Linked DNA regions of Homo sapiens. The protein of the gene in region 1 purifies or fractionates together with the protein of each later gene. This does not show direct contact. Each region holds a gene or a part of one and is shown on either strand. Other genes may lie near its edges.

Region 1 (12,519 bases):
TTTTTTAATGGTGTCTTGCTCTGTCACCCAGGCTGGAGTACAGTAGGGTGATCATAGCTTACTGCAGCCTTGCCCTCCTGCCTTAGCCTCCTGAGTAGCTGCCACTACAGTTGCACACTGCTGTGCCTAGCTAATTTTTTTTTTTTTTTTTTTTTTTTTTTAGTTTTTGCAGAGACAGGGTCTTGCTCTGTTGACCACGACGGTCTTGAACTCCTGGCCTCAAGCTATCCTCCCACCTAGGCCTCCCAAAGTAGTAGGATTACAGGTGTGAGCCACCACACCTAGCCAGGACATGCACTGAACTCTGGTTAAAATCAATGTGTTTACAAGCAGAGTGTCATGCTTGACTTGATGATCACATTTACCATTAACCTCCTTTGGAAATAAAAGTATTTAAATATGTGAATTAAATTAGGCTCACGCCTGTAATCCCAGCACTTTGGGTGGCTGAGGTGGGCAGATCACCTGAGGTCAGGAGTTCGAGACTAGCCTGGCCAACATGGTGAAACCCCATTTCTACTAAAAATACAAAAATTAGCCTAGCGTGGTGGTGGGCACCTGTAATCCCAGCTACTCGGGAGGCTGGAGCAGGAGAATCACTTGAACCTAGGAGGTAGAGGTTACGGTGCGCTGAGATCGCACCATTGCACTCCAGCCTGGGCGACAAGAGTGAGACTCCATCTAAAAAAAAAAATTACTATATCTTTCATCAATATGCATCAGAACTGATTACCTAAAGGGCCAAAACAAATCTGAAACACACTATTCAGATTTACTTGATTCGTGACACTGAACAAAAGGTCAATTTAACTACTGATGTGGATTATATGATGTTTTATTTTTTACGAAGGATTGCCAGAATATTTAGATCATATATAAAATAGCTTGATATATGCCTATATATAATATGCTGAATAAATATACAATATTACAATGTTAAAGTCTTTTGTCTTTTTAAACACTTGAAATCTACCTCAAAGCCCACTAACTTCAGCAAGTACTCTATGGGGAACAAGGCAAGAGCTTTGATTTCCATTTTTCACCATGGGAACTCAACATAAGCCTTTAAGTGATTTTCTTAAAGCCACATAGCAAAATGGAGATGGAAGCAGTGAAACAGCATAGGTTCTTAGTTCCATTTTCCCTATGAGAAATGATTAATGGCAATAATTCAGTATCATAAGGGTGATGTGGAGATTCATTATTTAAAATCTCAGCAACAAGATAAGCAGAATGGTAAGCAACAAGTTTTCCACTTTCTAAAACAGTGGGTCTCTAAAAAATACAATGACTCTATCTCCCTACTATCATTCAGACGCATTTAGTCAAAGTAAATGAGTCTGTTTTGAGAATTGTTTCCTAACGAATCTGATCTTATCTCACTTTCAGTTAAGTAGCAGGAACCTGAGTACCACTTCAAAACTTCGTACCTCCTTCAGTCTCTGAACAACCTGGTGTGAATGGTACATAAAACTTCTCATGATTAACTCATCTAATATTAACAATTTCCTTCTCCCCACAACCCCTCCAATTTCTGAATGAGCAAAATTGTTTCACCCCTCAAATAGGCCAGCAGTTTATATCTTTCACTTTCAAGTTACTGAAGTAACTGACCAAGGATCCCCTGTAGTCAACTCTTACTATAATATGTCATACAAGGAAGAGATCTAAAACAGTGCAACTCAAATTGCATTCCCAGGACAACAGCATCAACATCACCTGGGAGCTTGTTAGAAATGTAGACTTCCAGGCCCCACCCAGACCTGTTAAATCAGAATCTGGATTTTAGTAAGATGCCCAGGTGATTTGTATGAACATTAAAGTTACAGAAGGACTGATTAAAATGTAAAGCGAATGCCCACATCTCATTGGGAATATTGATGGCAACTTCCCTGTTGTCAACCTGGCTTCTTCCACCTGCCCAGGGCAGTTCTGTGCCACCTCCTCCGTAGTCATTCAGTCTATGCTTTAAGAATGCAATTTTATTTTAGTATAAGCTGAAGGTTTGTCAATCATTTCAGTCTTCACAGGACAGTGTTTCTGAACCATTTTTTCCTTTCTTCCCCAATAATATTTCTTAGTTTTATTTTCTATAGCTTCTATTATAAACCAGTAATTTTGTAACATAAAATTAAACTAAAATATTGAATATGCCTTTTCAAACAAAACATACTCTGTCCCTGTCCATGGAAAATCGCTATTCAAACTGGCAAGTTATATAACGAGACCTATAAAACCATACATATTTTTGACTGCATAACCTTGCTTATCTTCATACACTCCAAGGAAACAAGTCAAGAGGAAAACGCAATTTGACAAAGATTTTCATACTAGCCCTATTTTAATAGTGAAAAAAATGGAACTAACCTAAGCACCCCTAAATAAGGAATAATTGCTCAAAATAAGGGAATTGTTTTTGGGTATAACCCCAAAAGCACAGACATCAAAAGCAGAAATAGATAAATGGGATTACAACAAACTAAAAAGCTTCTGAACAGCAAAGGAAACAACAGAGTGAAGAGACAACCTACAGAATGGGAGAATATATTTGCAAACCATACATATGATAAGGAGTTAATATCCAAAATATATAAGAGACTCAAATTACTCAATAGAAAGAAAACAAATAATCCCATTTAAAAATGGGCAAAGGCAGCTACTCGGGAGTCTGAGGCAGGAGAATGGCATGAACCTGGGAGGTGGAGTTTGCAGCGAGCCAAGATCGCGCCACTGCACTCCAGCCTGGGCGACAGACCGAGACACCATTGCAAAAAAAATAAAATAAAATAAAAATGGGCAAAGGACCAGAATAGACATTTCTCAAAAGAAAATATACAAATGACCAACAGGTATGTGAAAAAATGCTCAACCTCACTAATCATCAGAAAAATGCAAATGAAACCACAATGAGATATCATTTCACACCTGTTAGGATGGTTATTATCAAAAACAAGACAACAAGAGAGGATGCAGAGAGAAGGGAACCCTTGCACACTGTTGGTGGGAATATAAATTAGTACAGCCATTATAAAAAACGGTATGAAAGTTCTTCAAAAAATTAAAGATAGAACCACCATATGATCCAGCAATCCCACTGCTGGGTATATATCAAAAGGAAATGAAATCATCATGTCAAGGAGAAATCTGCACTTTCATGTATATTGCAGCATTATTCACAATAGCCAAGACATAATGCAATCAACCTACATGTCTATCAACAGATGAATGGATAAAGAAAATATGTTGTATATACACAATGGAATACTATTCAGCCTTAAACACAAAGGAAATCTTGTCATTTGCAACAACATGGATGAATATGGAGGACAGTTTGTAAAGTGAAATAAGCTATGCGCAGAGAAACAAATACCGCGTAGTTTCAGTTATACATGGGATCTTAAAAAGTTGAACTAATACAAGCCAAGAGTAGAATGGTGGGTGGCTACCAGGGGCTCGTAGGGGCGTGCAGGGTGGGGATTGGGAAATTTGGGTCAAAGGATAAAAGATTTAGGTTAGGAGGAAAAAGTTCAAGAGATCTATTGTACAACGTGGCAACTATAGTTAAAAACAATGTATTGTATTCTTGAAAGTTGCTAAGAGAGTAGATTTTAAGTGTTCTCATCACAAAATGTAAGTATGTGAGGTAATGCATATGCTAATTATCCCAATTTAGCTATTACACATGTATACATATTTCAAAGCATCATGTCATACACAATACATATATACAATTTTGCCAGTTTAGAAATAAATATATAAATTAGGGAAAAATAAAGGAATTATAGCAGAAACAATGGTTCAAAATTACACTTTCTATGTCAAAGGTGAAGGTTTACAATGTTAATGCTGGCTGGGCACGATGGCTCACGCCTGTAATCCCAGCACTCTGGGAGGCTGAAGTGGGTGGATCACAAGGTCAGGAGTTCGAGACCAGCCTGGCCAACATGGTGAAACCCTGTCTCTACTAAAAATACAAAACAAACAAACAAAAAACTGCTGGGTGTGGTGGCACGCACCTGTAATCCCAGCCACACAGGAGGCTGAGGCAGGAGAATCGCTTGAGCCTGGAAGGCAGGGGTTGCAGTGAGCTGAGATCACACCACTGCACTCCAGGCTGGGCGACAGAGAGAGACTCCGTCTCAAAAAATATAAATAAATAAATAAACAAATAAAATCTTATGCCAAAATTCAAAAATGTTAGAGTCTTAGGTTTTCCAGAAAACTTTAAGTATGTGGACTATGTTGACATAAAATGATAGCATGTGTAATAGCAAAGACTTGGAACCAACCCAAATGTCCATCAATGATAGACTGGATTAAGAAAATGTGGCACATATACACCATGGAATACTATGCAGCCATAAAAAAGGATGAGTTCATGTCCTTTGTAGGGACATGGATGAAGCTGGAAACGATCATTCTCAGCAAACTATCGCAAGGACAGAAAACCAAACACTGCATGTTCTCACTCATAGGTGGGAATTGAACAATTAGAACACTTGGACACAGGAAGGGGAACATCACACACTGGGGCCTGTCCTGGGGTGGGGGGAGGGATAGCATTAGGAGATATACCTAATGTAAATGATGAGTTAATGGGTGCAGCACACCAACATGGCACATGTATACATATGTAACAAACCTGCACGTTGTGCACATGTACCCTAGAACTTAAAGTATTAAAAAAAACACACACAAAACAAAAAATAAAAATAAAAAAATAAAATGACAGTATGTGTAAAAAGTGGGCACAAGGGGATGCCACTCTGATTACAACTATTCAAAACTGTCTGTCCCTGTGTGTATATAAACTAGAAGTAAATTTAAACTAACGTAAATGCATTCTTGCATGTTATTTTTTCATGTAGTTATTTAAGTGACTAATTTTTTAAGAAAAACAAGCAGAATTACAATTTGGAGCCTTACAAACCTAGCCTAAGCAAATCACAACTCATAAAAATGTAATTCATTTTTTTAAATTGTTACATCCCCTTCAGGATTATATTTCCTCTGACTCCCTCCCTTAATACAGACAAACCAGCAATGTAGTGTACTTTTAACTTCCTTCCCTCATTAAAGCTTTTTTGGACTTTTTGATAATCCTAGAGTTTAAAATGTATCACCAAAAAAATCAGAACATGAATAATTGTTAAAGAACGGTGGAGTTTTATCATTGCCTTTAATTTATTTTAATTACTATAAAGCATGTGTTAATCTAGTCTCTGCTGATATTGAAATTTGTCTTTATTTCATCAAAAGTTGTCCCTAACTGTAAAAAAGTGTCCAGGTTAGAAATGGACAAGAAGCAAGAAGCAACCAACCTGACTTATTTCTTATTTTCTCAGTGGGTCAGTGTTGGGGACAGATCCTGGTTTAGAACTGACAAATCCACATCAATTCCTTTTTTATACCACGTCAAGTACTACACAAAAGAAAACATTTAGCTACATCTGACTTCTTCATGACATTTCAAATAAAGCAAGCCAGTACCTATGCCCTCTACGTCTATACGAACTAATGCTACATACAAAATTCAAGACACAACTATAATGATTTTTAACAAACGTTTCAGAACTTTTATATCCAGAGGAATAGTATCCTACACAAAGCCATTATTTTTGAGACTATACTCTGATTCAAGAGCTTTCCAAACTTACAATGGCCCAAACTTTATTCTTTCAGAGAGAATTTTAATTTTTGAAACAGTTGAAAGTCATTCAACTTCAAGTGTGATGGTAAAACTATGTGATATTTTGATGAGTCATGAAAATAAATATAACCACTTCTTCCCCTGAACTTCCATATCAAGTTTTATTTACGTATACTTATGATGTTCTAACTTTGTATTACAATTATTTATAGAGCTTTTATTCATATTAAAAAACACATATTACATGTTAACTTTACAAATATTAACTCATGTCATAATCATCATAACAACCCTGTGAGGTAAGTACTCTCATTATCACCATCTGCCGTTTTACAGGTAAGAAACCTGAGACACAGAAAGTTAAAGTAACCTGCCCAAGGGAAAATAGCTAGTTAAGGGTCAGAGCTGGGATGCACACCCAGAGATCTGGCTGGAAGATCTGGGCTCTTAACCACCATTCTGTGCTGCCCCTCTCTTATACTAGAGGGAATGTATTAACAAATTGGTCTTTAAGACAATTCCAAAAGCACAATTCTCAAAAAGGGAGGGAATCTGCTTGGACATGGAGCTAGAACTGTCCACTGAGAGAAGGAGGGCAGTGGAGGGAGCTGAAGGGAAGAGGCCAGGTGGGGAGAGCCCGAAAGAGATCAACCCAGACTCCCCCTTTGCTTAAGCTAAATGACATCTTCAGGCTAATCTTGCAACTTTAATTTTACATTGTCAACCAGAGTCAGTACTTGGCTTATTTGCCGTGAATTATCCATTCGGTGGTTTATATGTGGCAAACAATCCTAGGCTGGCTTTCAGGCTCACTTTACCACTGGATTGTATTCAGGAAATTGAAAATAATGTTGGTGGCCTAAGTTATCATGAAGATAAATGTGGCACCAAGGCACATATCCAATTGAATTCAAAAACTAAATGCAAGTTGTAATTTCTCACTAAATGAAGTTAAGTTATAATTTCAAGTTCTTTGCCACACTGTTCCCCTTTATTGCAACTGATAAACTGGAATTTTATTTCATCACTGCTCCTCCCCCATTTCTCCAGTTCAGTTGTTTGACAGGCACTTTATTCCCAGTTGTCCCTTTAAAACTTAAAGGACAAAAAGATAATTATGCATTTATCTAAAGACATACATGTCAAATGACTTCATTATGTGTCCTTGAAGCTAAAGAATTATAACAGCATTTCTTCTTCCAAATCTTCCATCAGATAAGTAGCAAACAAAGGCAGATATGTCCAGAAGGATGCCAACTATGGAAATAAACTATTTTTTGAGCTAATTATTTTAAATATTTTAAATTAGTTCTCGTCTTATCACCATCAATCCCACTGGGCAGTCAGAACTTTCCCAATGGCTGTCTACATTGAGGGTGAGAAGGGAAGAAATGTGAGAGAACATATGTACCTCAGTGAAAAGAAACTTGATGTATCTAAAAAAAACAAAGGGAATAAACTTAAAAAAAAAACTATCTGCATTAATAAGAGCATTCAGTACACTGGATAAATACAAGAACAGAACATAAAATCAGTAGCTTTCCTATGAAACAGAAAATATAGTGGAAACAGATCCCATTTATGATTTTTAAAAATCAGCATACACATTCATACACACAATAACTCGAAATAACAAAAAATGTATAAGACATACAAAAAGAAAACTATAAAACTTGATTGATGGATATAAACAAAAAAATTATAAATGGAGAGACTTATGTTATGGGAAGGGAAGACTAAATTATTTAAAGATGACAATTCATTCTTAGTTTATTAATAAATTTAATGTAACCCCAATGGTGTTTTCAAAAAAATTTTTGATACATAATAATTGTACATATTCATGGGGTACAGTGTGATGTTTCAACACATGTATGCATTGTAATAATCAAATCAGGGGATTTGAATATTTAGGATATTTATCACCTCAAACATTTATCATTTCTATATGTAAGAACATTTCAAGTACTCTCTTCTAGCTATTTCAAAATACATAAGATATTGTTAACTATAGTCACCGTACTGTGCGACTGAACACTAGAACCTATTTCTTCTATCTAACTGTCTGTTTGTACCCATTAGCCAACCTCTCTTCATCGCCTTCCACCCTTCCCAACCTCTGGTAACTATCATTTTACTCTCTATCTCCATATGATTGAGGAATCCCACTACAGGGTATCTATCAAAAGGAAAGGAAATCAATATATCAAAGGGATACTTGCGCCCATACATTTATCACAGTACTATTTACAGTAGCCAAGATATAGAAGAGTCCAGCAACAGATGAATGGATAAAGAAAATGTGCTATGCATATACAATTGAATACTATCTGGCCATTAAAAAGAATGAAATCCTGTTATTTGCAGAAATGTAAATAGAACTGGAAGTCATTATGTGAAGTGAAATAAGCCAGGCACAGAAAGACAAATATCATGTGTTCTCACTGGCATGTGAGAGCTAAAACATTTGGTCCAATGAATTTTTTTTAACTTAATAAAATGATTCTAGATTTCATTTTGAAGAACCAACAGATAAGAATAGCAAATAATTTTTAAAATATATTAAAACATTATCATACTATAGTGCTATCAGTGCAAGAATAAATGGATCAATTGAGACAAATAGATAGTCCAGAAACAGTAACTGTTATATATAAGAATTTAATATATGGTAAAGTCGGCTAGCAAATCAATGAAGAATGGAAGTTGTATTTATAAATTATATTAGGACAATTGCTAGCTATCTGGAAACAAAATCAAATTAGATCTTTTATCCACATCAAAATACAACTCCAAATGGAATTAAAGAGGTAAATGTAAACTAACAAAACCGTAATTTAAAACAAAAACTGCAGTGAAGTTTTATGACATATCTCAAGGGGAAAGGACTTTCTAGCCAAGGAAGAAATCAAACACAAAGAAAACGAGTGACGTATTTGACTACTAAAAAGTTTGATTTTTGTATGTGTCAAAAAAAGTAAGGGCAAACACCAAACTTAGAAAACATACCTTGCAACAGATCAAGGATTAGTATATATATAAATTTACAATGTGTTAAAAAAGTTTGATTTTTGTATGTGTCAAAAAAGTAAGGGCAAACACCAAACTTCGAAAGGATACCTTGCAATAGATCAAGGATTAGTGCACATATATATATATACACATAGAGTGTGTTTAAAAAAAGTATGATTCAACTGGTTAAATGAGAAAAATACACAAAAAGCCAAATCATGGGAGGAAATACAACAGCTTAACAACCATATAAAATGACAGTCACTAACCAAAGGAATATAAAATGTGGAAAATAAAGAGATAGAGTGTAAATATAAAATAAAGAATAACAGGCCAAATGTCAAGGGAAAATTTTCTTAACTACAATACCCACTTCTAGTGAGGGTGTGGTGAAATGGACACTGATGCATTACAGGTGAGCATGTAAATTGGAATAACCATTTAGGGAAAATATCTCATGATCATGTATATATCAAGAATCCTAAGCTGTTTATGTTTTCTGACCTAGAAATTCCACACTGGAAATTCATTCTAAGGAAATAATCATAAATGCAAGGAAACTTTAATGTACTGAAATATACATCCTGATGGAATTTATAATAACAAAAATATGGAATGAGTCAAATGTCTAAAAGTAGGTGACTGGCTAAGCAAAATATGGTATACTTACTAGCTAGCTGGACTACCATGCAGCCATTAAAAATAACATCTTAAAGTTGTCTCTAAGAACATTACATATGAGTGTATTTTTTTCATATTAAGTGGGAAATGGGAAACGTATACAATTGTAAGAATACAAGAACACAATCATATTTTTAACACATGTAAATTTATATATAAATATATATAAATATATATTTATAATAATATATATAAAAATATATATTTATAATAATATATATAAAATATATATATTTATAATAATATATAAAAATATACATATTTATAATATATATATAATATATTATATCTTATATACAATATATAATATATTATATCTTATATACAATATATAATATATCTTATATACAATATATAATATATTATATCTTATATACAATATATAATATATTATATCTTATATACAATATATAATATATTATATCTTATATACAATATATAATATATTATATCTTATATACAATATATAATATATTATATCTTATATACAATATATAATATATTATATCTTATATACAATATATAATATATTATATCTTATATACAATATATAATATATTATCTTATATACAATATATAATATATTATATCTTATATACAATATATAATATATTATATCTTATATACAATATATAATATATTATCTTATATACAATATATAATATATTCTATATTATACTATATAATATAGTATATAATATACTATATATAATATAGTATATATTATATATTATATATAGTATATAATATATATTTATATATTATATATAGTATATAATATATATTTATATATTATATATAGTATATAATATATATTTATATATTATATATAGTATATAATATATATTTATATATTATATATAGTATATAATATATATTTATATATTATATATTATATAATATTATATATAATATATATTTATATATTATATATTATATAATATTATATATAATATATATTTATATATTATATATTATATAATATTATATATAATATATATTTATATATTATATATTATATAATATTATATAATATATATTTATATATTATATATTTTATATTATATATTTATATATTATATATATTAGATATTTATATATATATAAATATATAACATTTGGTGTTTGCCCTTACTTTTTTTGACGCATACAAAAATCAAACTTTTTAGTAGTCAAATACGTCACTCGTAAGAATACAATTGTAAGAGCACACGTGCTCAAAAAGCAATTCATCTTATTAAAATATAGAAGAAAATTCACCTAATTTTTAGCAATAGTCATCTTTAGGTTATAAAACTATAGATGATTTTTCTCTAATTTCTATTATCTATATGTTTCAAATTTTCTATAATGAATAGGTATAAGGAACTATTTTTAATAGACTTATACAAAAATCTATATTTATTTAGAGAAAGTAATTGAAAGAAATACTTATTACTTAAAATGAAGGTGAGCAATCCTATAAATGGAAAACTCCTTTAGTGCTTTATGAAGCAGTTCAATTTTCGATTTTCTAAATCAGAACAGAAGAAAAGGCCATATCTGAAAGCCATGATTAGGAGGTTCAGAACTGGGGAAAAGGGCAAGCATCGTTTGAAAGTACAGTTTAAAGTACAGTTTGAAGGCATATGAAATGTATTATCTCTACAATAAAAATATAAAAACTATAGCTCAATTAAATCTTCTTGGTTAATAGGAGTAAACAAAAGATAGAATGAGAAACCATTCTGAGTAAACCCTACAATCAATGCATGTTTGTCAGCTATACCTTGTTGTCCATGTGTATATGATACCACTTATATTGTTATTTCGACTGCATATCATAAGTGTTCTGGTTTAAAATGAGTACGTGGTTTATTTCTAAATAAAATCTGATTTTATAATTACAGTGTAGCACCAAAAAGAGGGAATGAAATTTTTACATTTATCAAAAGGGACACTCAACTCAAAAACATTGAGAAACTGATAAAAGGCAATGTATCCTCATATCTTCCCTCTGCAGCACATTCTGGCTATCACCCTAACAGTCACATAAGACTTTGAGGCCCCAGTGTACCATTTGAAAGACACCGTAAGGGAACTCCCAATTTGTCTAGTATTTTCCGCTACTTCACAAGGAGGTTTTCATGGAGAACTAAGAGTCATAAAAACTGCATTTATGCAAGATTCACTTTGGGCGAAAACTTAAATGCTTGATAATTTCTCACCTGCCTAAGTTAATTCCTCATGTGGTTCCGGCCTACATAGGCAAAAGTCTAAAGCTGCCCTTCTCTCTTGCATAAGGTACTTAAGGCAATCTTTTGCAGAAGGTAGGATACACATTACTATTCCTGTTTTATAAATATGGAAACTGAGTCCCAGAGAATTTGAGTGACTTTCCCAGAGTCCATACCCTAACCTCTCAATGGCCATTCCGTTTATTGCAGTAAAGAACAGAATTTGCCTTGACAGTTTGTTAATTCAAAAATATCTGCTGAGTGCCTATTATGTGTTCCTGTGTTTCTGGTGATGGAGACAGTATCTCCGCCCTCATGGAGATTATATTTTTGCAGGACAGCCCAGCAATAAGTAGGTAAACAAGCAAATTATCAGATAGTTTAAAGCTCTTTGAAGAAAAATAAAGAGATGGAGTGAGTGTATCAGGGACAGGGAGAGGGCACTTGTTCTAGATAGGTGGTCAAGCAAGTCCTCTCTGAGGGAGGAGACAGTTGAACAAACATGTGAACTGAAGGTATTTTGGGCAGAAGGAACAATAAGCGCAGAAATCCTAAGTGGGGGCATTTTTGAGGAGCTTGAGAAACGGCCAGGAGCCCCGTGAGGCTGAAGCCTTAGGTATATCTTGCCTCTCACTATACCCTGTTGTCCCTCCCCTGCCCAGACTTGTTTTGTACATTCTTTTTCACCTTTGGGTTAAGGAGCATGTTATCTCCTTTGTCAGCTTCCCTAAAGCAGCGCCTTTCACCCACCCACTCACTCCACCTTCTTTCAATGAGAAAAGAGCCTAAGAATCCTAGCTGGTTTTCATTGCCCTTCCCTAGGTTCCACACGGGAACAATAATTATATAAGCAAAACATAAAGATTCAAGCCCAAGACATTCAATAGCTTCCACGTATTTCCCTTGAAGCCTTTGTGAAAAATGTATTTAGCATGACCTGAGAGCTGCCACAAACAAGGC
Region 2 (12,519 bases), on another chromosome or scaffold:
TAATTTTAATTGCTATGTTTTTTTAAGCTCCTACCATATGTCAAAACATTTTTCCTCTTTCATATCCCCCACCGCCATTCGCCTAATAATGGTAATTCATTCTTTGAGCCTGTCTCAGGTTGGTTGTCAGTTTCTTTAGGAAGCCTACTCCAACTTTTCTTAGCCTGAGTTAGATGCCCCTATTCCTCTCATAGTTCCCTGTATTTTTCCTATTGCAATGCTTACTACATTAAATTGGAACTGCTTATAGAGTTGTTGATTACTCCAAAAAAGAGTATAAATGCCATGAAAGGAGGGTGATCAATTGTTTTGTTGCTCTGTATATTGCCAGCACCCAGAAGAGGGCCTGGCACATAGTAGGCACACAATAAATATGTGTTGAATAAATAATTAATGCTAGGCACTTTAAATTGGAAAAAACTAGCACAGTAATACAAAGACCAATGTTAACTAAATCAGTTAACATGCACTTCCTTTCTTAAATGTCGTTATAAAAAGGAGGAAGAAAACTCAAGTGAAACTGACTCTGCTAGAACAGTGCCGTGCTTTTCCACAGAAGGTTAGACCCTGAAAGAGATGGCTCAGCACCACCTATGGATCTTGCTCCTTTGCCTGCAAACCTGTGAGTTCTGACCCTTGCTGATCGCCTCCTAGTTTTCCATAAAGTTTTAAAAATTGCCCTTAAGGAAGACATTGAACTGTCTTTTTGATCTGTGTTTAGCAGAACACCCTGGGTCTCAGTATCTACTGTACTCAACAGGATCCAACTGGCTGGGGAGAGACTTAAAATTCAAACCTAAGTGTTTAGGTTCAGCTTTAAAGTTTATATTACTGAGTTATATTTCTGAGATCTGGAGATCTCAGTTTCCAAAGGTCTGAGGCAAATCCTTCTCAGAGGAATCAGCACTTGGTAAACCCACCCAAAAAGCCTGGCAAAAGAAAGATCTTCTAAAAGCTTGAATGACTTACAAGCAATTTCTTCTTGGCATTCAATTGTGATGGCGTTTGAGAGAGAAAAATGTCTTTCCTAATTATAGTTGATTGTTCTATCAGGTTAGAGTGATGGATGACTCATCGTTATCATTGTTGAGCCTCATCTCTATAAACTCCCTTTATTTTCAAAACACAGAGCTATTACTCTGCTTTTATCCTCAACAAACTCTAAAATAAATGAGGAAGAGATTACTATCCCATTTTTTACAAATAGTCTCAAAAAAGAGTTGGAGAACTTGAATTAAAAACCCTATTTTTCTTACTTATGGCATAACAGTAAACTAAAAGAACGACATGAATATTGATTGTTATTTGTACAAAGAAAATTGTAACATTAACATAGATCTGGGAGTGCTGTGTCATTGTACATGTTATCTCCTTAAATACAAACAATTGCTCTAACAGAAATTTACTATGTTTGGAACTTCTAGATCTACTTCTAGTATCTCTTGCCAGTTCTGAAAATGCACTAGCAGAATTCTGGCATGAGTTAGAACCCTGGGAACCTAGTACGTTTGGATTTTCTGTAAAGGTAGAATCAATGCACTGTGATCTCTCTGGTTTCTTTGGCCATTTCAAGCTATGGCTCCTTTAATTTGAACTTCATGGAGATTGTAACCACTAGTCAGACCAAATTTTTGGAGCCTCTGCTGGTCGCTCTAGAATGGCAGACAGAAAATGCAAGTAGATGAGGAATGGTACTAGGGATGTCCCTAATCTTCCAGAGAGAGACCAGACAAGGTAGCATTTGATACCACTTAATTTGCAAAACATTCTACAATGTTTATGCCTACATTCTTATGTCATCCATATGAAAACCATTGAGATGAGCAAGATAGACGTTATTAATCCCATTATGCAAGAAAAATAATAAATTAAGATTTAGGGGTTTAAAAATTCACCTGAAATTTCACTACCTAAATTGGTAGAGCTGGAAATAGACATTGGTTTTTCTAATTCCAAGGTTAATCCCAATCCCATTGGTTCTTCTTTCTGCTCCACCTGACCTCTTCACTCATTGCTTTCAAATTTTTGATGCTCTTCAAAAGGTTAATACCTGCTAAGATAAAAGGTAGCTCTAGGATACACTTCTTTCATCTACTGAAACTGAAATAAAGTTGTCAAATCAGCTAGTAGTGAATTGTTTACAAGTTTTGTGACCTAGACGAAGTTACATTCCTCCTCTGACTCTTGTTTCAGCTTCAAAATGGGGAGGTATTAATACAGTAGAATTGTTTTGAGAATCAAAATGATGATAATGCATGTACAACACTTGCCATGGTACCTGAATATAGTAAGTGTTTAACAGATATCAGCTAATGCTACTATTTTTCACACTCGCTTTTCATTCATTATTAGGAAGAGCCATGGCTTTACCACACAGAGATCCTGGGCAGGACTCCTCTGTCAGGGAATTGTCCAAGGAACATAAACAGGAGAAAAGGTGGTGGGAGTTTGAGCTTAGGTGTTGGTTGTCTGGGTTCTGGAAAAGGAAACTAGGAGTGAGATATTCATTTCATCAAGGATCCATGAAAGGGGAATGGGAGCTTGTTTTTATAAAAGTGAAGCCAGGAGTACTTTTTACATACTGTCCACCTTTACTGAATTATCTGTTTGCCTCTTAAGGATTATTCTGCAAACCTTTTCTGAGCACAAAAATATACCATGAATTCCTCCTGCTGCTGTTCCTGGTAGAGGTAGTCCCTTACATTCAGTATTGGGCTTAGGAGTCTACACTTTACACATTTCCCTGGAATTCAGAGCAGTTGAAGAGGCTGAGAAGCAGTGGAGAGATGCAGGGAGAAATCCCCATTTCCCCTCAGAAATCACCGACATAAGGAAAGTCTGAGTGTGCAAACTTATGACTGTTCCATGTTGGAAAAGTTTTCTCTGAGTCAAAATTCACAGTCTTATGCTCTGATGCCAACTTTCTGATCATGACTTTGGAAACACCATGACTCTGACTGTCTCTCCACATACCCTGGGAGACACTCCCACTCTGAGGGTAGGAGATGAAGGAGTCCACCAGTTTTAATCCTTGCCCACCCCCTCTACATATACTGTCTCATACTCTTAATTCTTCCTTTTCTCTGCCCCATTCGTATTTCTATTTCTTCAACTCCCTGTCTTATCTCCCATCAATAATAGTAATAAGTAACCATTTATGGAGCAATCACTGCATATTCAGCATTACTCTAAGTAGTCTACAGTTATTATTTTGTTTAATCCTTACAATACACTATGAGATAGATACGGTTTATGTGCACATATACAGATGAAAGCATTGATACACAGAGAGTCAAAGGCCACTTAACCAAAAAGTGAAAGAAGTAGAATTTAAGCTTCAGAGTCCTTAGACTTCACCTCTGAGTCATGCTGCCTCCACCCACATTGATGCTGAAGTGGAGTAAATTACTCTCCCTACTATTAATGTTTGGGAATATGTCAGTAAAGAGTGATGATTTATTTATTTCTGTCAAGACAGGATTATTCGGATAGAATCTGTGCCTTTCTCTATACCCACCCACAGAGGAGGAAGGAGCTGTTGGCAGGTCCTTGCCAATAACGGAAGTTTAGGCAGGGCAGTGAGGCAGAATACCCAAGCAAACAACCATCTCCAGACATATTTCAAATACCGTTCACTTTAATATTATTCAAATGTGATTTGAATTAGTTTCTTTAAACAAATAAAAGTCCAATATCAGCATGATGTTGATGTCTTGTTGGATGTTAAACATGGTCATGGGCATTTCAGCAGTTGAGACCTAAAATTCTAAGAAATGAGTGGGCTCACTATGGGTAACTGGACCCCAACCATCATCCTGGGGCTCAGAGACAGGAAGCATACCTGTGGAAGTATGCTGACAAAACAACCTGCCACTGATCTGAAGTCCTTGCATTGAGGGGTCTTCAAGATAAGGACAAGGCCTCTGTATTAGAATGAGATTTAAGCAGATGACTACCACAGACATTCAGAAAAGGGCTCAAAAGCAGAAATCCAGTTATAGAAATGGAAATATATTACATATGGGTAAAACTGCTTATCAAAAACCCAGCTTCCAAACAGAGGGTGGAAAGCTGTTCCCCCTGTGATAACTCAGGCCTTCAGTGGAAGGCAGCGGAGGCCTACCTTGTCAGCTCCAAGTGCTTGAAGCAGTCCTGGAGATCAATATGGAGGCCAACAAGGCAGCCAGAGCACCTTCGCAACAGGAGCCTGATGGTCGGTGCCAAGCCATTCAGGCTACTGGAGTATTCCTAAATCAAACCTTTCTTGTCTTGGACCTTAGGAAAGGGATGGACCTGTAAGTTTGGAGATCACTGGGCTCATCTATGTGAAACTTGGAAAGAGGTATGAGCAATCAGCTGGGGGCTGATATAGGTGGAACTGACTAGGTACTCTTGTTTCCTTTGTTATACTCAGTGTTCAAGTACACGCTAATAGAGGGCAGCAATGTTAAAACGGATGGCTATGATCTCATGTCTGTTTTGAGATTTTGTGTGTGTGTGTGTGTGTGTGTGTGTGTGTTTTGAAGGAACTGATTCAAGTAAACCTAAATCCCAATAAAGGTGATATAAAGTAAAACTCCCAGGGGAAAACAATGTACTATTGCATGGGGGTAGTAGGTTCCTTTTTCTTAAAACCTCATGATCAAGGACTTTCCGTCGCTTTGGAGAATGACACAAAATTTCTGCCTGCCCAGCCCTGTGCTTCCTCTTCCCCTCTATGTCCCTTCACTCAGTGTGAGCAGTTATAATGGACTCTCTTTTGGGCACCACATGCTAAAGCTACCTCTGGTCACTCTCCCAGACCTACAATACTCAGCGATGTTCCACCCCCACTTTTTGACTCTAGGAGGCAGTGGGTGGAGAAGAGGAGAGGAAGTTTAGCTAGTGCCACAAAAAAAGAACAAGAAATGTTTGTCTGGAGGATCCTAAGAAAGTAAGGGGGTGGAGGTGTCTGTTAAGCAACTGTGCAGTCTTCCCCATTTCCACTCTTATTAATAGCTACTTGCTGACTTTAACATCTCCCCAATACCCCAACTCTAATTTTTCCCTTCGTAGTTGTCTGAGGTGTTATTTTAGTCTCTTTGAAGATGTTTATTTGTTTTACATAGCAAACATATATAGTGCCTAGTATATGCCAGGCACTATTCTAAGAGGTCTACAAATATCAATTCATTTAACCCTCATAATATTTTTATGAGGTCAAATATTGTGCTACTATTACCTTCACCAATGTGCTAATATTACCTTCATTTTAAAGCTGAGGAAACTGAGGCACAGAGAGGTTACTGACTTTCCCTGGGGTTCATGGCCAGTCCCTGACAGAGCCAGGATTCTAGCCCAGGCAGGCTAGGCCTCAGTGACTAACCCATGGTGACATACAGGTGATTCCACAAGGCAAGGCTCTCCTTAGGACCACTAGACTCTCCTCCATTAGTACACACACTTGAGAGCACCCTCATGTCATTTAATCCTAATAATTCCTCAAAGTGGCAGGACAGCTCTGTTTTATTTCTTTTACCAACTAGAACCCTCTGACTTAGCAAGTAAGTGACATTCATGGTCATTTAGCTAGTCAACAACAGACCCTAGACTCAAACATGTTTCCTAATCCCTGATTCAGGACACTTTTACTAACTATGCTGTGGGTCCCCATTTTGTGGATCTAAAAAATTTTCTTCACAAACAGTATAGAATATAGAAAGAAATTGCAGTTAGCCATCTGATTCTTGTTAATAATCAGTTTAAATACTTGACCTTTCACATCAAGACCCAGAGATCAGTAAAGAGTCCTCTCTTGCCTTCACTCTTTCTCTTGCTGAGATTTTCTGCCTTGTTTTTCTATTGTTGGAAAAGATTAATTGAGTCAGTTGCAAAAAAAAAAAAAGCTTTGTTTTTTTTTGTTTGTTTTTGTTTTTTGTTTTGAGACAGAGTCTTGCCCTGTCACCCAGGCTGGAGGGCAGTAGCACAATCGTGGTTCATGGCAGCCTTGACTTCCCAGGCTCAAGTGATCCTCCTGTCTCAGCCTCCCAAGTAGCTGAGACTACAGGCATGCATTACCATGCCTGACTAATTTTTTTTTATTTTCTTTTTCATAGAGATGGGATCTCATTGTGTTTCCCAGGCTGGTGTTCATTTTTTCAACAAACATTTAATAATCATCCACTAGTTCTTGGAGGAACAGTAGTGATTGAAACAGACAAAGACTCACATTCTTGATAATTGCATTATAGTAGCAGTGTATTGAGGGGATGGGTTGGGAGACAATCAATAAATAAGCACAGGCAATGCTTTAGTGGTGATAACTGCAGTGAAGAGAAGGATAGTAAGGCAAGGCAAGAGAGAAGGATGGGGTGGGGATTGCTGTTTTAGGCACAGTGACCAGGAAAGCTCTTTCTAATGAGATGATGTTGGGAGAAAACCCTGAACAAAGTGGGGGACTGCTGAAAAGAGTGTGGTAGGAAAAGAGGAGAACAACAGGTGCAAAAGCTCTAAGGCAAAGTGCCCTTGGCCTGTTTACAGAACAGAGGGAGCTGATGTGGTTGGAGTAGGGAAGTAGGGGAAGATCAGGCAGAGCCTAGTAGTGATGGTTAAGATTATGAAAGGAGAATAGAGAGCTCCCCAGACTCCAAGGGTACACTGTGTTCATTTTTAATAGAATCTAAGGAGAATTATGGGGTTTTAGGTCTATATAACCTCTCCATTGTCATCCATATTTGACTTTGGATTCCACCCAAAACATCAGTAAGTTTTGCTTGCCCAGCCTTGAAGAATTTTCCTCTCATGAGTTAAAAGCCTCATACCTCAACAATCTTTATACAATCTATATATATGGGTTTCTGATTCTTTTCTATTTGTTTTTTGTTTTTTCAAATATTCTTCTTTTTCTCACGATCCCTATTGTCTTCTTCTAGTCAGTGGCTTTGAGCTGCCTAACCATGAAATGTACATTTGTAAAATCCATCCATATCCCTAGGATCATCCAGGGAAACAGGGTTATCATCTTAGACACAGAAAGGTGTATTGCATTGGGAAGGGTGCCCCAGCCCAATCCAGGAGGGGAAGGCAACCTCCAGTGAGCAACCAGTCCTCAGTGATCTCTTTCAACACTGGTCATCCTGCTCCCTGAGTCCTGGGCTCCCTCTTTGCCATAGCTACCTAAGAGTCACAGTGAACAGGTTTTTCCATCTAAGCCTGCACCCCAGGGTTTCAGCCTTTTCTTGCCTTTGCTTCTCCTCTAGAGGTATGGCCTTTCTCCTACCTTTCCCATTTGTGTTCTGGCATAAGAAGGTCACGAAATCACACTCTTTGGAAAAGGTTGTAAATGTGGGTTACCACTTCTTCACTGGGCTCTCAAGGGTAGTTAGCAAACACTTGATCCCCTTCATCAATCTCTTGTTGACTCCCTATGGTGTTCCTTATAGTAACATTCCCCCCCCCAATTTTTACATTCACCAAAATAATAGCAACTACCATTTATATGTGCCAGGCATTGTGCTAAGTGCTTTATCTTCGCAATTGCATTTAATAATTATCCACACTTTACAGATGAGGCACCTGAGGAACAGTGAATTTCAATAATTTTCTCAAGATAACACAGCTACGTTCAAATATTCCTAGATTCAAAATCTGCACCTTTAGTCTGTATACCTCCTAGCTGGTCCCACTCTTGCCTCCTCACTGTTGCCAGTTAGTCTCCCCTCCTACATTACTGAAGAGATGAAGGCCACCAAGAATGACTATCTTCCATTTTATCCTATCTATTCCAAAATGTCCACTGTGTATTAAGCACCTTCTATGTGTCCTCAAAACAATTCTATAAGGCAGGCATTATTATAGCCCATCTTGTAGTCAAGTAAGATCAGGGCCTCAGCAAATGTCAGGGATTGAACATGAGCACAAGCCCACCTGGCTCAAATCTATGCTCACTCTACTTCACCAAGCAGCCTCTTCCTATCACCGTCTTTAATAACATCTCAAAATACCTTTGCTCTTTCACTTATCCTTTCCTTTCCCCTTTCCACTTCAGGTGAGGGTGTGACCCTCCTTAAATCTACAGCTTCCACTGCCTGCCCTTTCCTTTCCATCTTTTGTTCCATGACAAGCATTAGTAGCCTGTGTATCTTGTGCTGTTCTGCATACCAGAGGTTTAAGGCAAGGCCCCTGGACTCAGTCATTCACAGTGTCCAGAACACAGACACGCAGATTGATGACCACCACACAATGTGGCAAGTGCTATGAGAGGGAAACCTGGAGTTCCAGAGAGGCCATGAGCAGGAGCATCTAACCTAGAGCAGGCCCACTGGGGACATCTCTCTCTGCTTACCCTCCCTAGCTCCTCCCCCCCAGCCCCCAGTCTCTTCTATTTTAAAACAAAAATAAATTAGTTTCACCTGACCTTCTAGCTACTGTCCTATCTCATCACCCTTCTTTCACTGTCAAGTTTTTCCTCCATGCTTTACCACCTACTCTGTCAGTCCCCTAGACTCTGGCCTTCCATCGAGTTGTCTTACTTGTACTACATTCTCAAAGGCCATCAATAACCTCGTAACGGGCAAACCCAGGGCCATTTTCAGTCTTTATCCCGTTGAACGCTGAATCATTAGACATCAGTGGCAATCTCCTCCTTGAGACTCTTTCTCCTCTCTGTGATATGGCCCACTATTGGTGCCTCTCTTGCACTCTTACTGCTTGGTCTCTTCTGTTTCTTTTGATGGTGTCTCTTCTATAAATGTGAGCACTCTCGCAGGGCTCAGTCGTGGACTTCAGGCTTACTCTTCCTGAATGACCCTCCTCTCCTTCACCCACGCCATTTCTGTGGATGATCTCTAAACCCGCTGGATTTCAGTGTTACAGTAAGTACCAGAGACACTAAAATAAGAATGGCTTAAACAAGAAAGAGGTTTATTTCTTGCTCATGTAAAAAAGTGCGGAGTTGGCAGTTCACAGTCAGTAGAATAGTTCACAAGGTCATTGGGGTTCCAACTTCTATCTTCCTGCTCCACCATCCTCAGAACTTGGCTTCCTCCTCATGACTCAGAATGTCTGTCTAAGATCCAGCTGTCATGACCTTCTGGCCTGCAAAAGCAAGGAAGAGATGAAAACAGCAAATTTCCCTCTTTTTATGTATTTATTTATTTATTGGTTTTCTTCTGAGACAGGGTCTCACTCTGTCACCCAGGCTGGAGTGCAGTGGTGTGGTCTTGGCTTACTGCAACCTTGACCCCCTTGGGCTCAGGTGATCCTCTCATCTCAGCCTCCTGGGCAGCTGGGACTACAGGTGTGCACCATCATGCCCAGGTATATTTTGTACTTTTTTGTAGAGACAGGGTTTTGCCATGTTACCCAGGCTGGTCTCGCACTCCTGGACTCAAGCGATCCACCTGCCTTGGCCTCCCAAAGTGTTGGGATTACAGATGTGAGCCACCATGCCAGGTTCCCACTCTTCTTAAAGACACAGAAGTCATATACAACACTTCCATTTTTATTCTGTTGGGCTGAACTTAGTCATATGACCAACGTTAGCTAGAAGAAAGCAGGACAATATAGTCTTTACTCTGGGTGGCTCTATGCCCTGCTAAAAATTAGTGATTCTATTAATAAGAATGAAGGAGGGAACAAATATTGGAAAACAGCTAGCAGATTCTGCCACAGTGCCCCAAATAATACTTCAAGTCCATTCTCTCTCCTTATCTTCCATCATTCCAAGAGCTTACTTACATGGTCCACCATCATCTGAAGTTTAATATTTCTAACACTAAACTTTCTTCCCCCTTTGACTTCTTTCCATCATAAACTTTATGAGTTTTTCAATGACATAAAGTAGAAACTCAAAATATATTGATGAACAATTGAATTCTAGCAGATGCCTCTTTATTTCTTGCCTTTCTTTGTGTTATCATCAAATCCAGCCCTTCCTTTCCATTCCCATTATCGTCCCCTGGTTCATGCCCAGAAGACTACAGTATCCCTAAATGGCCTCTCTGATGCAGCCTCTCCTTCCTGTTTTCCTCCCCACACATCATTACTACATTACAATGACTAAAACATTATTTTAATCTTCACTCGCAAAAACCTTAATAGTTCCCCTCTGCCTCTGATGGAGACCTCAAACTCAAGGCTGTCTCAAATCTAAACCTAATTTGTATCTCCAGCTGTACCTCTCCCCACTCTGATATGCAAATCTATATTCATCCAATTAACATCACAGGTTCTGCTTCTAAACTTTTGTTCAGGATCCGAGGACTTGAGACACCCCTCCTTTCCCTTTCCATCAAGTAGAATTCTATTCAGCCTTCAAAATCCTCCTCAAATTCTACTTTCTTTGAGATGTTTTTTCTAACCACTACAGCTCAGCAATCCCTCCCTTCTTAGAATTCCTACCGTAATCACTGTTTCTACCATTCACTTGAATTTATTATTCACTATCTCATATTGCAAAGGAGAATTGTGTGTGTGCGTGCGTGCGTGCGTGCGTGTGTGTGTGTGTGTGTGTGTGTATCTTATTTCCCTAACCGGGTATCAAATTCCCCCCGAAAGGCAGAGAATCTGTCTTTGCCATAGACTAGCATAGTGCATTTCATGGTAAGTCCTCAAGATGTTTTTGTGCCACAAGTTATCTCTGAAATTAGATTTTACTAAGGTCACTTCCAGTGATAACATAATGTTAGAGTCCCTTTAGCACCCAGAAAAATAAATATTGGGATTGATTGATATGGACACTCTTTCTTTTAAATCTTAAAATCTTTTAAGAGCAGAATAAAGTCTATCCAGGGTACCTGAAACTGTCCCTCCAGGCTTTACTTGAATTAGCCCTTAAAAATGGCTTTTGATATATGCTCCAGTATGGCCCCGGCATCACCAACGCCATCATAAGGGTGGCCTAGGGCAGGCCCAAAGGGCATGTACCAATTGTTGAAGTGATGATAAAGAACATACGATGAATGTTAATATATCAGTATCAACTCCAGAAATAACTAACATTTATTTTACCTTGATGATCAGCAAAGCATTTCTACTCATATTACATCATTTGCTGCTCACCAAACAGGACAAATAGCATAATTATTATTTTCATTCTATGGATGAAGAAACTGAGGTTCAGAAAGGTTTTGTGACCTGTAATCCCAGCATTTTGGGAGGCTGAGGCGGGCAGAGCATTTGAGGTCAGGAGTTCAAGATCAGCCTGGCCAACATGGTGAAACCCCGTCTCTACTAAAAATACAAAAACTAGCTAGCCGTGATGGCATGCACCTGTAATCCCAGCTACTTGGGTGGCTGAGGCAGGAGAACTGCCTGAACCCGGGAGGTGGAGGTTGCAGTGAGCCAAGATCACTCCACTGCACTCCAGCGTGGGTGACAGTGAGAGAGTGAGACTTTGTCTAAAAATAAATAAATAAATAAGAAAGGTTTTGTGACCTCGTTAAGGTTGTCCAGTTCATAAGTAGAAGTACTTGCACCTACACCTTCTGCCTCCCTATCTTTCCACTGCATGCAATGGTTTTGCAGCTGCTTCTCTCAGAGCACAGTTGGAGTGTTTGAAGGTGGCAGAATCTTCATCTTAAACATGTGCAACCCCTTTGCCTTTTCCAGCAAGCAAAGTATTCTTGCCAACAACACCAGCAGCACAAATAACAGCTTCCCCCAGCTTTGCCTACCCACCACCCCCACTGCCTGATTGCTCTTTGATACCCCACCAACACTTCCTGAATGACTTGCTACAGGAGATGAGACATACTTTTAAAACTGCACCACACACCAACCACTGTGGCTGCTCAACGGCCCTAATATTAAGAAGGTCTCAGCCTTAACAATCTACCTACATACTTCCTGGGGTTTAGTGAGAGAACCCAGCAAAATTACGAGTCTGTGGAATCTATGTTCTGTCTCTCTCCTCACACCTAATCTCAATCCACAGAGTGGTGTGGCAATTAAGCACTAGGGCCTGACTTCAAAAAAGACTTGAGACGTGGGAGATCTGAGACCAGGACTGGCTAGATAATTTGCGAGGCCCAGTGCAAAACGAAAATGGAGGGCCCCTTGTTTAAATAGTATGTAGAATTTAAAGGTGGCAACGCAGCCTTAAGTCCAGTTCAGGGTCCTTTTGAATTCAGGGTTCTGTGCAACTGCATAGATCACATGCCCATGCCTGGACCATCCAGGGATTCACGCTGGGACACTCCAAATACCCCTCTCCTAGAACCCGTCAGCCCAGAAAAACAGTTTATCTGGGAAGAATTAATGTTCTTAAATTTTGGCAAACTATGACTCTTACCACCAAAGGCAGCATTAGCCTCTTTCTGACCCGCTACCCCAATGGCTTATTTCTATTGCTTTTACCATTTAGCACTCATCGTGTTGTATTGTCTTTCACTTGTGACCACATCTGTCTTATTTTCTAGGCTGTGAGCTCCTCAGGGCTGCAACGATGTCCTGTTTATCCCTGTGTCCCTAACACAGCATCTGACACATAATTAGCAGTTAATAAATGTTTGCAGATAAGGGTTCCCAATTTCCCCCTTC

What was found.
Region 2: the proteins of SH2D1A (region 1) and CD84 purify together in Homo sapiens (affinity purification with western blotting; 4 studies listed by BioGRID and IntAct, with this or other methods). This does not show direct contact.

Annotation. Positions count from the first base shown.
Region 1 is NC_000023.11:124,348,088-124,360,606, reverse strand, and holds part of SH2D1A (SH2 domain-containing protein 1A), read right to left. Parts: intron 1-12,519.
Region 2 is NC_000001.11:160,567,495-160,580,013, reverse strand, and holds the start of CD84 (SLAM family member 5 isoform 2 precursor), read left to right. Parts: upstream 1-517; 5' UTR 518-576; coding exon 577-622; intron 623-8,880; exon of another isoform or gene 8,881-9,075; intron 9,076-12,519. UniProt on the Homo sapiens protein: Self-ligand receptor of the signaling lymphocytic activation molecule (SLAM) family.